Regions from separate parts of the Homo sapiens genome. Here region 1 is reported to be linked to region 2. The links are microRNA targets in miRTarBase. Many come from high-throughput screens and were not tested one by one. Region 2 holds a microRNA gene; the other region holds the end of a gene's coding sequence.
The links. The annotated mature microRNA hsa-miR-6511a-5p reads CAGGCAGAAGUGGGGCUGACAGG and lies in region 2 at 2,032-2,054, opposite strand. An mRNA with a match to its seed (bases 2 to 7 or 8) in the 3' UTR can be bound and repressed. Matches are read on the target gene's strand: a 7mer-m8 pairs with bases 2 to 8, a 7mer-A1 pairs with bases 2 to 7 and ends in A, and an 8mer does both.

Region 1: miRTarBase lists SNX17 as a target of hsa-miR-6511a-5p. Seed matches in the 3' UTR shown: 7mer-A1 at 1,312-1,318.

The regions. Positions count from the first base shown.
Region 1 is chr2:27,375,811-27,380,810 of GRCh38, forward strand. It overlaps SNX17 (sorting nexin 17), which reads left to right. Exons shown (of 15, transcript NM_014748.4): 11 at 36-161; 12 at 296-373; 13 at 503-577; 14 at 669-710; 15 at 796-1,725. The coding sequence ends at 909. ZNF513 (zinc finger protein 513) reads right to left here and starts at 4,924. Exons shown (of 4, transcript NM_144631.6): 1 at 4,662-4,924; 2 at 4,283-4,438; 3 at 2,657-3,244; 4 at 1,425-2,561. The coding sequence starts at 4,716. The coding sequence ends at 1,735. RefSeq lists enhancers at 1,892-2,051, 2,666-3,536 and a silencer at 4,677-4,896.
Region 2 is chr16:14,922,823-14,927,994 of GRCh38, reverse strand. It overlaps MIR6511A1 (microRNA 6511a-1), which reads right to left and starts at 2,058; the gene lies at 1,992-2,058. LOC100288162 (a long non-coding RNA gene) reads left to right here and starts at 712. Exons shown (of 3, transcript NR_103772.1): 1 at 712-947; 2 at 1,168-1,974; 3 at 2,213-2,245. It also overlaps the pseudogene PKD1P3-NPIPA1 and the pseudogene PKD1P3.

The DNA.
Region 1 (5,000 bases), not on the chromosome of region 2:
GAGTGAACTCAACCGAATTCCCCTTCCTCTCCCAGGTACCATTGCCCAGTGGAAGCACGAGCAGCCCAGGCCGGGGCCGGGGTGAGGTGCGCCTGGAACTGGCTTTTGAATACCTCATGAGCAAGGACCGGCTACAGTGGGTCACCATCACTAGCCCCCAGGTGTGAACCTACCCTCAGCCCTCCTCTGGAGCACCTTAAAGTGTAGAGTTTCCAGTACTCAATATGGGAGGCATTAGTGGTGCTGGGCTCAGAGTGACCACTCTCATCAAGCTGGACACTCTTCTTGCCCTCAGGCTATCATGATGAGCATCTGCTTGCAGTCCATGGTTGATGAACTGATGGTGAAGAAATCTGGCGGCAGTATCAGGAAGGTAGGCAGCAAGTGTGGACTGAGCAGTGAGCAGGTGTGCTCCCCTTGCCTTTTGTCCTAGATGTGAGGCTTGTCTTGAGAGGGAGGGGAAGTGATCCTGCCCTCACCGGCACCTTGTGTCTGTCCCCAGATGCTGCGCCGGCGGGTGGGGGGTACTCTGAGACGCTCAGACAGCCAGCAAGCAGTGAAGTCCCCACCACTGCTTGTAAGTATTACCTCCTGGTCAGAACCCTGGCTCTCAGCCCTGCCTCACCTCTCCTAGTGAGTTTCTGACACCTCTGCCTCTTCTTCCCCAGGAGTCACCTGATGCCACCCGGGAGTCTATGGTCAAACTCTCAGTGAGTTCCAGCGTTGGTGAGGTTGCTGTTTGTTGGGGGATCTTGCACGCCCAAGATCTCTGACCCCACCCTGCCTTTGTTACAGAGTAAGCTGAGTGCCGTGAGCTTGCGGGGAATTGGCAGTCCCAGCACAGATGCCAGTGCCAGTGATGTCCACGGCAATTTCGCCTTCGAGGGCATTGGAGATGAGGATCTGTAATCTCCACTGCTTGGATGTCTGCCCTCTACCCCAGAGGAATTTACAGAAACTTGCCCTGTGCCTGTGTCCCCCATGCTAGGGGCGGAGGGGTCTTTTCCTTCTTCTTTCCTACCTACCCCTTTTCTCTTGGCCAGGGGCCTCGTATCCTACCTTTCCTTGTCCCCTGGGCTGGCTGCACAGAGGATTGCCCCTTCTCTTTTCAGAGCTGGCCCTCGATGCCAAATTAGCATTTAGTATTTTGCACAAAGTCTAAGGGACCATGGCTGCCTGCCTTGGGGAGGAACCATATCTCCCTCTGGGCCGCTTCTGGCCTCTTGGAGCCATGGGCCAAAGGCCAAGGGGATGGGCAGAGGTCTGTGTTTGGTCTGGCCCAGTTCCCCATCATTAAACTCAGCCTGACTGCTGCCTACCTCTGGTTCCCTCTCACTGCCCCTGCTTCCCCCATCACAGCATGGACTACTATGCTAAGGGTAAGGCCAAATTGCCTGCCATTGCCAATTCAGCATAGACATGGCTTTGTTAGTGTTTCCTTTATTATAAAGCACTGAAATAAGTTAAATAAACAGGTGGGAGGCTGGGCAGTCCCCCAGCCGGTTTGTCCACAGCCCCTGGGGGCAGTGGAGGTGAATACAGGGCCCTTCTCACTGAGCTCGTGAAGTGCCTCAGTCAAGGCAAGGTCCCCTGGTCCATATGGGCCCCCCCGCCCATGGGGTTGGGCTGGTCCTTATAGTGCCTACGTTAGTCTGTGTGGAGCCCCTGGCCAGCGGGGGAGAAAAAGGTGGCTTCTGGTCCGTCTGTATAAAACATGGGGAAGAAGGACCTAGTTCAGGATGAGTCTGTGTGGACAGCCCGGCTGCCAGCAGTCCCCAGGGCTGGTGGGCCCCGAGAGCTCAAAACAGAGGGTGGGCTATGAGGTGGGGCCCAGCCCTCAGAGGCAGAGAGACCAGGCCCTCCTGCCCCACCGTGGCCATGCACCTTCTGGTGGCGCTTGTAGTTGTCCCAGTGGCCCGTGGTATAGGCGCAGGTGGCACAGCGGAAGGGCTTCTCGCCTGTGTGCCGCAGCATGTGACGTTTGAGGTTCATGCTCTGGTTGCAGCTGTAGTTGCAAAGGCTACACCGAAAAGGTTTGTCACCAGAGTGGATGCGACCATGACGCTTGAGGTTGGCCAGATTGCCACAGGCATAAGGGCAGAGGGGGCACTTGTAGGGCTTCTCTCCTGTATGGACGCGCTGGTGCCGTTTCAGGTTATCCAGATGAGCAGAGGCATAAGGACAGCGGGCGCAGCGGAAGGGCTTCTCACCACTGTGTGTCTTCATGTGCCGGGCCAGGTGGTTGGGATAGTGAGTGGCAAAGGGGCAGAGGCTACAGGCAAAGCCTTTGTCACTGGGGCCCTGGGGCCCCCCACTGGCACCCCCTCCAGCCTCTCCTCGCATGCAGCGCCCACACATGGCAGCTCCCAGCCGACTACCCTCACCCTCCTCCAGCTCTTGTCCACAGCCCCGGCAGGTCCAAGGGAATAGCAGCTCTGGCAGTGGTTCTGATCCAGTCCCGCAGAGGCCCTCCCCTTCACCCCGCAGCTGCCCACAGTCTGGCAGGAAACTGGCACCACCTGGTGGCACATGGAGGCTCAAATCTGGAAGGAGCAGAGCATCTGTGGGGACAAAGACCTGGGCTATGAATCCAATCCAAGCATTCCTAGGGTCAGCCACCCATGTCCCAAGATCTTTGGTCCCTGGTGTGTCTTACCTTCAGGTCGCCGGGGCACCGCCCCCTCCTGCTCTGTGGGACTGGGAGGCCGGGCTGGTCGTGGAGTACAGCAGCGGAAGCCACAGGTCGGGCAGGGAGGAGTGGGGGGCCCTGCGTGGGTACGCTGATGCCGCCTCAGGTTGCCCAGGCTGCTGCAGGCAAAGGGGCAGTGGGGACAGCGGTAGGGCTTCTCGCCAGTGTGGGTGCGGGTATGTCGTGTCAGGTTGACGAGCTGGGCTGAGGCGTAGGGGCAGCGGCCACAGCGGAACGGCTTCTCTCCGCTGTGTGTCTGCATGTGCCGCTTCAGGTGGCTCGAGTAGTGGGACACGAAGGTGCAGAGGCGGCATGAGTACAGTAGCCGTGGGGGCAGCAGGGGCCCCCCACCCGGCCCTCCTGCCCCACAACACGGCCCCTCACCTGTCGGCCCCCCACACAGCTGGCAGGCTGGGCCTGGCCTCTCACCCCTGGCCTCCCCTGGACCCCTGGCTGGCTCCTCAACTTCACTCTCCGCACTTAGTGCCCGGCCGCCCCCAGACTCATCGTCGCTCAGCCCATAGGGAAGCCCAGGCCTGGCCCCCAGAGAGTCTCCTGGTGAAATAGACATAAGAAGAGACATCAGCATAGGGTAGGATCAGGCTCCAAACTCTCCCCTTTTCACTTATGGTCTCCCCACTTGCTTGGCTCCACCCTTAGCTTTGATGATCCCTTTAGTTCCCTCCTAGGAATCAAGGTCTCCCCTGCAGTAATTCCAGAAAATTCAACATGAATTGTCTACCTCTTACACTGGACTAATCTAGTGATGGTAGAATTGACCTGTATCTAGTTTCCCTCAATGGTCAAGGATCAAGGGCTCACAGTGGATCACAGACTGAAATGAATCCATAATGAAATTAATTCTTGAGACAAGAAAGTAAAAATACGAAAGGGAGAGAGCCCCCAAGACCTTTTTCTAAGCTCTATTGCTAAGGCCCCTTTTAGTAAGGAGCTGATATAAAATAAAACCTATCTCTGAGGCAAAATTTGGAGGGAAGTGGAGACAATGAAAGTAATGCATGTAATACCACTTGCCTGCCTAAAGAACAGATATTTACATGGATCCCCTCAATGACTTTCAAAAAACATCTTGCATAAGTGGATGGGTAGTGCAGCAAATTAGGGTAGGGTGATGCTAAGATCACAGGGAAGAGGGACATGGAAGGATAAAGACAGAAACTAAAACCTCTCAATACAAAAGGAGCTTACGCTGCAGGTGAAAGGGAGTTAGATTAGACCTAAATACTGGGTTGAATGATTTACAGAGAGTTTGCTTCCCTGAACCTCTCTTAAAAGTAAATACACATAAGGAATGGGCTAGGGAGAGAGACAGGGCATTTACTTTTAATCAGTTGCTCCATGTGATTCACCCACCCTCCTATTCCTATCACCTTTGACCAGGCCTCAGAACTTCACCTCAACAAAGTGATGGAAGTGATTGGACCATTAAACAAATGAAGTCATCTAGCTCAAATGTAAACTAAACCAGCCCTCGGTTGTGGCAGGAAATGGTGTTCTGTTCACCTAACCTGCCTCCTGAAGGGCTGGGGTCTCCAGCGGCCGCTAATCCTTAACCAAGACCCGAAAACCCACCTTCCGAGTCTCTCTCGAAGCCCATGAGCTGGTCACTGTTGCCGTCGCCTTCCTCCTCTTCCTCTTCCTCCTCAAACTCCAGATCCTGGCCTAGTAGCAAATCACTCTCCAATACCAGGGCCCCGGGTCCTTCGTCGAGGGAGTCTTCAGTATCCACTGAAGAGGGGAGGGGGCTTGTGGATTCTCCCTCAGGAACCAGCCCTCGTGGACCACACTTCCCGTACTCGCTGACCCACTCTGATTCCCTTAGTGCCTCGGTGGGAAGCTAGGAGTCTGGATCGCCCACTTCATCCCTCAGGAGTCCCCCTCCACCCTGACCTGAGCCCACTCCACTGACCCCACCCCCGCTCCTCTCCCCTCAAGGCCCCTGACCCCTGACCTTTGACCCCCTCGCATTTCACGGGCTGCGGGTGGCTTTGCTTCCTTCGGGGCATCGTGACCGGCTCCAGCCCGACGCGCCTCCGGCCTGCGGCCGCCCGACCCCGCCCCTCCTATCTCGGCCCGCCTGTCTGCCCTTCCTCTCAGGGCCCGCGGGCCGCCCCCATGCAGCGGCGCGGGCCCTGGGCAGCCCCCGGCCCTGGCCCCGGCGCCCAGCTCAGGCCGCTCCCGCCGCCGCCGCCGCTTCCATTCATGGAGCCCCCTACCCCCCTACGGAGACCAGCTGGTACCTCCGTACTCGCTTCCGCTTCCGCCGCCGCAGAGACGCACGGGACGCGTA
Region 2 (5,172 bases):
GGGAGAGGAGAGGGGAGGGGAGAGAAGGGGGGAGAGGAGAGGGGAGAGGAGAGAAGGGGGAGAGGAGAGGGGAGGGGAGAGAAGGGGGAGAGGAGAGGGGAGGGGAGAGAAGGGGGGAGGGGAGAGAAGGGGGAGGGGAGAGGGGAGAGGGGAGAGAAGGGGGAGGGGAGAGGGGAGGGGGAGAGGTGAGGGGAAGGTCTAGGGGAGGGGAGGAGGGGAAGGGCTAGGGGAGGGGAGGGGCTGGGGGAGGAGGCAGGGGCTAGGGGAGGGGGGAGGGACTAGGGGAGGGAAGGGGGAGGGGAGGGGTTAGGGGAGGGAAGGGGAGGGGAGGGGCTAGGGGAGGGAAGGGGGAGGGGAGGGGAGAGTGGAGGGCACAGAGCAGCATCTTCTTAGTCCCTCCCCACATCTGGGCCCCTCTTTACACCCTGGGTCCCCCGAGAGGCACCCTGCGTTCACACAGGACAGCAGAATGGCTGAGGCTACTGAAGCAGGTCAGAGACCGAGGAACGCCATGGCAGGAAGGAGCCCAGGCTGGAGGCTCAGCTCCTCGGCCAAGCTGCCCGTCTGCCCTGGGGGGCTGAACCCAGTACCCTGGCAGGCATGCGGGGCGGGGAGAGCATGTGGGGCCATCCTACCATGCACTGGGCCAGCGCAGCAGCGATCTGCTGGATGTCATCCACAGTGTGGACCCTCAGGGACACCAGAGTCTCCGTGATGTTCTTGCGTATCTGGGCTCGGCGCTGCCGCTCGTGCTTGGGCTCTGCCGCCACGTCCAGGGCCCGCTCGTACTGGGGCAGGCAGGGGGCACAGCAAGCTGTCAGCAGGGCAGGAGGCCGGCAGGAGGCCAGCAGATGCCCACGACTCCCGGGGTGCAGTTACGTGCTAGATGCTGTGTGATGTGGGCACTGACCCGCAACACTGAGCTGTTTCTTCATGGGCAAAACAGGGTAAGCACATGGGCCCTCCTGGGCGGGGGCTGCATTGTGGAAAGCAGACGCCGGAGAGGGCCCGGTGGGTGTGGCTGCTGGGAGCGGAACGTCGGGGTGCTGCTTCAGGGTCACTGGGATTTATCTCTGGGGCCCGGGATGAGCCCTCCGCAAAGCTCCAGGCAGGGGAACAGGTCTTGGTCCCCAGCACGCATGCAGCAGATGTGAGGTCCCCTCCCAGGCTGCACTCACCTCGTTCAGCACAGTGACCAGGGCCAGCGAGTACTCGATGACGTGCTGGGGATCGGCCTGCCGCAGCAGCCCCGGGAGCACACTAGCGGTGAGCCCGTGCAGCCAGACTGTGAGCCCCATTGCGCTGCCGTTGGGCTCTGGGAGGGTGATGGCCAGAGACCTACGAGCAGAGGGGGGTGGTGAGCAGGTGGCAGTCTCGGGGGCGCCCTCCCACGGCCTGGCTCACCTGTTGAGGGCGACCACAGCGGCTCCCAGCTGGTCCTGCACCACCACGGCCAGGCCCACCTCGAAGTGTGGCCTGAAACCCGGGGGCAGCACGGCTCCGTAGCCGGAGAGGCTGCCCTTGTAGACACAGAACTCCTCGCAGTGGCCCTGGCGACAGCGCTGCAGCAGCAGGGCGTACACCAGCGGGGCGCCAGCATCCTCCGCGTCATGCCAGCCTGAGGGACGGTCCCCACGGCATCACGGGAGGGCTCCGTGACCTCACAGAGTCGGGGGATCCCGCTGCTCCCCCTACGCAGGCCTGCACTCACCCATGCATTCGAAGTGCACCTTGGTGGTGAGAGCGTGCACAGCGCCCAGTGGGAAGAGGCGGCAAGAGCCCCCCAGCGGCGGGCGGTTGGGGGACAGGGGGATGGAGGCGCAGCCCTCCTCCTCGCCAGAGCGGCCCAGCACCGTCAGCGTGAAGGTGTATCCCTCGCCGTCCCGCAGCACGCCCCGCCGCAGCACCAGTCACATGCCTGCGCTGCCCGTGGATGTGGTGGTCTCATCCAGCACCAGCGTCTTGTTGCTGAACGTACGTGCAGCCCACCGCTGCAGGCAGAAGGGATGGTGAGGGGGCGCAACCCTCTGCCCTGTCAGCCCCACTTCTGCCTGCAGGCCCCGTCCCCTCGGCCATGGGACCCATCCCCAACCCGCCCACACCCCGCTCAACACTCACCCCTCGCTTGGAGCCGCTGCTGCAATTGAGGCAGCGGCCCTCCAGGTACACGTAGGAGCTGCGGCTCACTTCGTACACGGCCTGTGCCTTGCAGGACACACACTCCAAGGACACAATGGGCACCCGGCCACTGCGGATCAGCACCTGGCGTGGGAGTGGGGTTACCTCCAACACAGGTCTATTTGGCCTGCTGGAAGGTCTGGGGGACCCGTGGAGGATGCTGCTCCCAAACTCCAGGTTTCCCAGGGGCCTGGCCACTGCCGGTGAGCTCACCCCCTCCCAGGATACTCATCCGGTTTGCCACCTTCCAACCTGGGCGGCGGAAGGGCATACACAGGGCAGAGGACACTGGGGTGTGTGTTCTGGTGTACTGGAGCCAGCTGGACCCTGACAGGAGGCAGGCAATGCTCACTGAGGGCCCCTGGGGGGATGCGTGTGGGAACAGACGTATGTGGGGGTGTGAGGACCGCAGTTGCCACGTAGGCCTGACTCACAGACTCCTGCAGCCCTTAGCCAGGGCCTGGGTCAGGAGGCTGAGCCGGGATGGAACCTGCTCCCACACCCTCCCCTCAGACGACCCCTCTGGGCAGACCCCCAATCAGGCCAGCTGAGGAAAGCAGGGACTGGGGAACAGACACCCACTCTGGGGTACCAGCAGGCCCCAGTCAGGGAGGCGCACACACTCACAGAGGGCAGGGAGGCGCACACGCTCACAGGCACCTGCTGCGTCCGGTTCTCGAAGGCATTAGATGCCAGCAAGGTCAGGACGTACTCACCTGTGGGGACAGGCCCAAGTGGGGCAGCCGCGGCACCCCCACCTGCTCCCCACCCGCTCGGCAGAAGCCCCCCGCCTGAGGAGCCCGGGGTGAACGGCTGCGCCTGCGGCCCAGCCTTAAGGGTCCCAGGCTCCCAAGCCACGTGCGGGACGGAGCACAGGTGCAGCAGCACTGAGGGCTGCCTGGTGAGGACGGCACCGCCTCCAAGTGCAGCTGCACTCGGGGCAGCAGAGCAGCAAGAGCCAGGCCGCGGTGGGGGGCAGTTCAGGGGGCCCAGCTTCCCTGTCCACTCCTCCCACGCCTGGCCCCTCCCTCACCCCAGTAGGGGCCTAAGCCATCAGCCCAGGTGAGGTCACAGTGAGGGCTGTTGGGGAGGAAGCGGGGCAGCTTGACTGGGGGACTGGGGGGGCCCCGTGCTCAGAGCCTGAAAGGCAGTGGCCCCCTCACCCCCTCATCCCTCACCTGGGGCAGCGTAGGTGTGGGTGACATTGTGCTCCACCAGCACCTGGGCCACCGAGGGGTCTGGAACCGGGAAGGACTCGTTGTATGGAGGCTGGAACTGGTGGAGGGCCTGCTCCCCATCCCCAAAGGTCCACCTGCCGGGGCGGTGGGAGGCAGTGAGTGAACCGGGACAGGGGTGCGCAGTGGCGGGGCACAGGTGCGCGGTGGCGGGGCAGGGGGTGCTTGGGACCCAGCCGAGGCTCCACTCTGCAGTCACGCCCCGGGCCTCCATTCAGGGCCCACCCGGCTGTGCTGAGGCCTCTCCCGGCTCCCGTGCAGCCTCAGGGCTCCTGTGCACCCAGTACCTCCCAACAGACAGGGAAACCGAGGCTCAGAAAAGCAACCCCCTGATGTGGGGTCCCTCGGCTGAGGCTGGAGCCGGGACAAGAGCCTGGTGCCCGGACAAGAGCCTGGTGCCCACCCCAAACCGGCCCCTGAGTCACTCACAGGAAGGCCACCTCCACGGCCGAGTCCACCAGCACGCCCGCCGTCAGTGCCAGCGTGGCATTGGGGGACAGCACGGCTGGCACTGTAGAGACCCGCAGGCCCTGCATCCTGTTCATCCGCTCCACGGTGATGTTGTAGTTCACGGTGACGTTGCTCACGTGGTTGGAGGCCGTCAGCTGCAGGGACAGGCATCAGTGGGCCCAGGTGGCAGGTGAGAGGCCTGCCCTGCTTGGCGTCCCTCCCTCCACTCACCACAGCCATGGCAGCGTCCTCGGGCAGCATGAAGCAGAGCAGAAGGCAGAGGTGAAGGTGGAGCCCGCCCCCGCCCCGCCCCATCCCCTCCCCTCCCCACTCCCGCCCACCTACTGAGAGCTTGAAGACCGCCGCGCTCTGATAAATGACATTGAAGACCACGTTCTGGAAGGTCAGGGACTGCTTGTCGTTGATGGTCCACCAGAAGACCATGTCCGAGCCGGCCTCCACCACGGGGCTGTACCTCTGCGGGGGGACTGGTGTCAGCCTGGGCTCTGTGGAGGACTCTGCCCTTAGCCTGTCGCCTCCTGGACACACCTCCCGTCGGGCTGGAGAGTCCCACGTGGGGCACAGAGGAGAGGAGGTGCCCGGGGCTCTGCATGCCATGAGAGCCAAGCCCGGGCTGGGACACTGACTGTCCGGCTCTCCAGCCAGCCATGTAGTACTACTAATGCCTCAACCTCTCTGTGCCTCAGTTTCCCCATCTGTAAAGCAAACCTAGTACCAGCTACAAAGAGTCCACCTCTCTCTGAGTCTTCTCAGACCCTCCCGGGGCTCCTGCCCCAGCTCCTCAGCCAGAGAGCTCGGAGCAGTGAGGGGAGGCACACGGGCCTCACAGGGACAGCACCTACACTGGCTTACAGAACCCAGGACAGGCTGCACAGGTCACGCCATTTCTCATGGCCCCTCCCAAGGCCCCTGGTGAAGGGGCAGGTACCCGCAAGATGGAACAGCCCTGTCCCCCATGTACCCAGCATGGTGGCACCGCGGGCAGCCCGCAGTTTCCCATCAGGGGTTCGGACTCCACCTCAAAAGCCACTTGCTTTAGCCAGGCGAGAACACAGCAGAGGGCGTGAGAGACTCACGGGGACTCGTGTGAGGTCAGGGAGCGGAGTTTTAAATTCATTTCGTGAAATGAGACGGTGGAATGAGTTAGCGGAGCCGCTGTCAGAGCCGTGACTTTCCAGGAATTTAAAGCCCACCAGGTAGCCTGAGGAGCCAGCCAGCAGGACCTGCCCGGGGCCGACGTCCCCAGTAACTGGGCTGCTGCCCTCACTGGGAAGCCAGGCCTCACGCC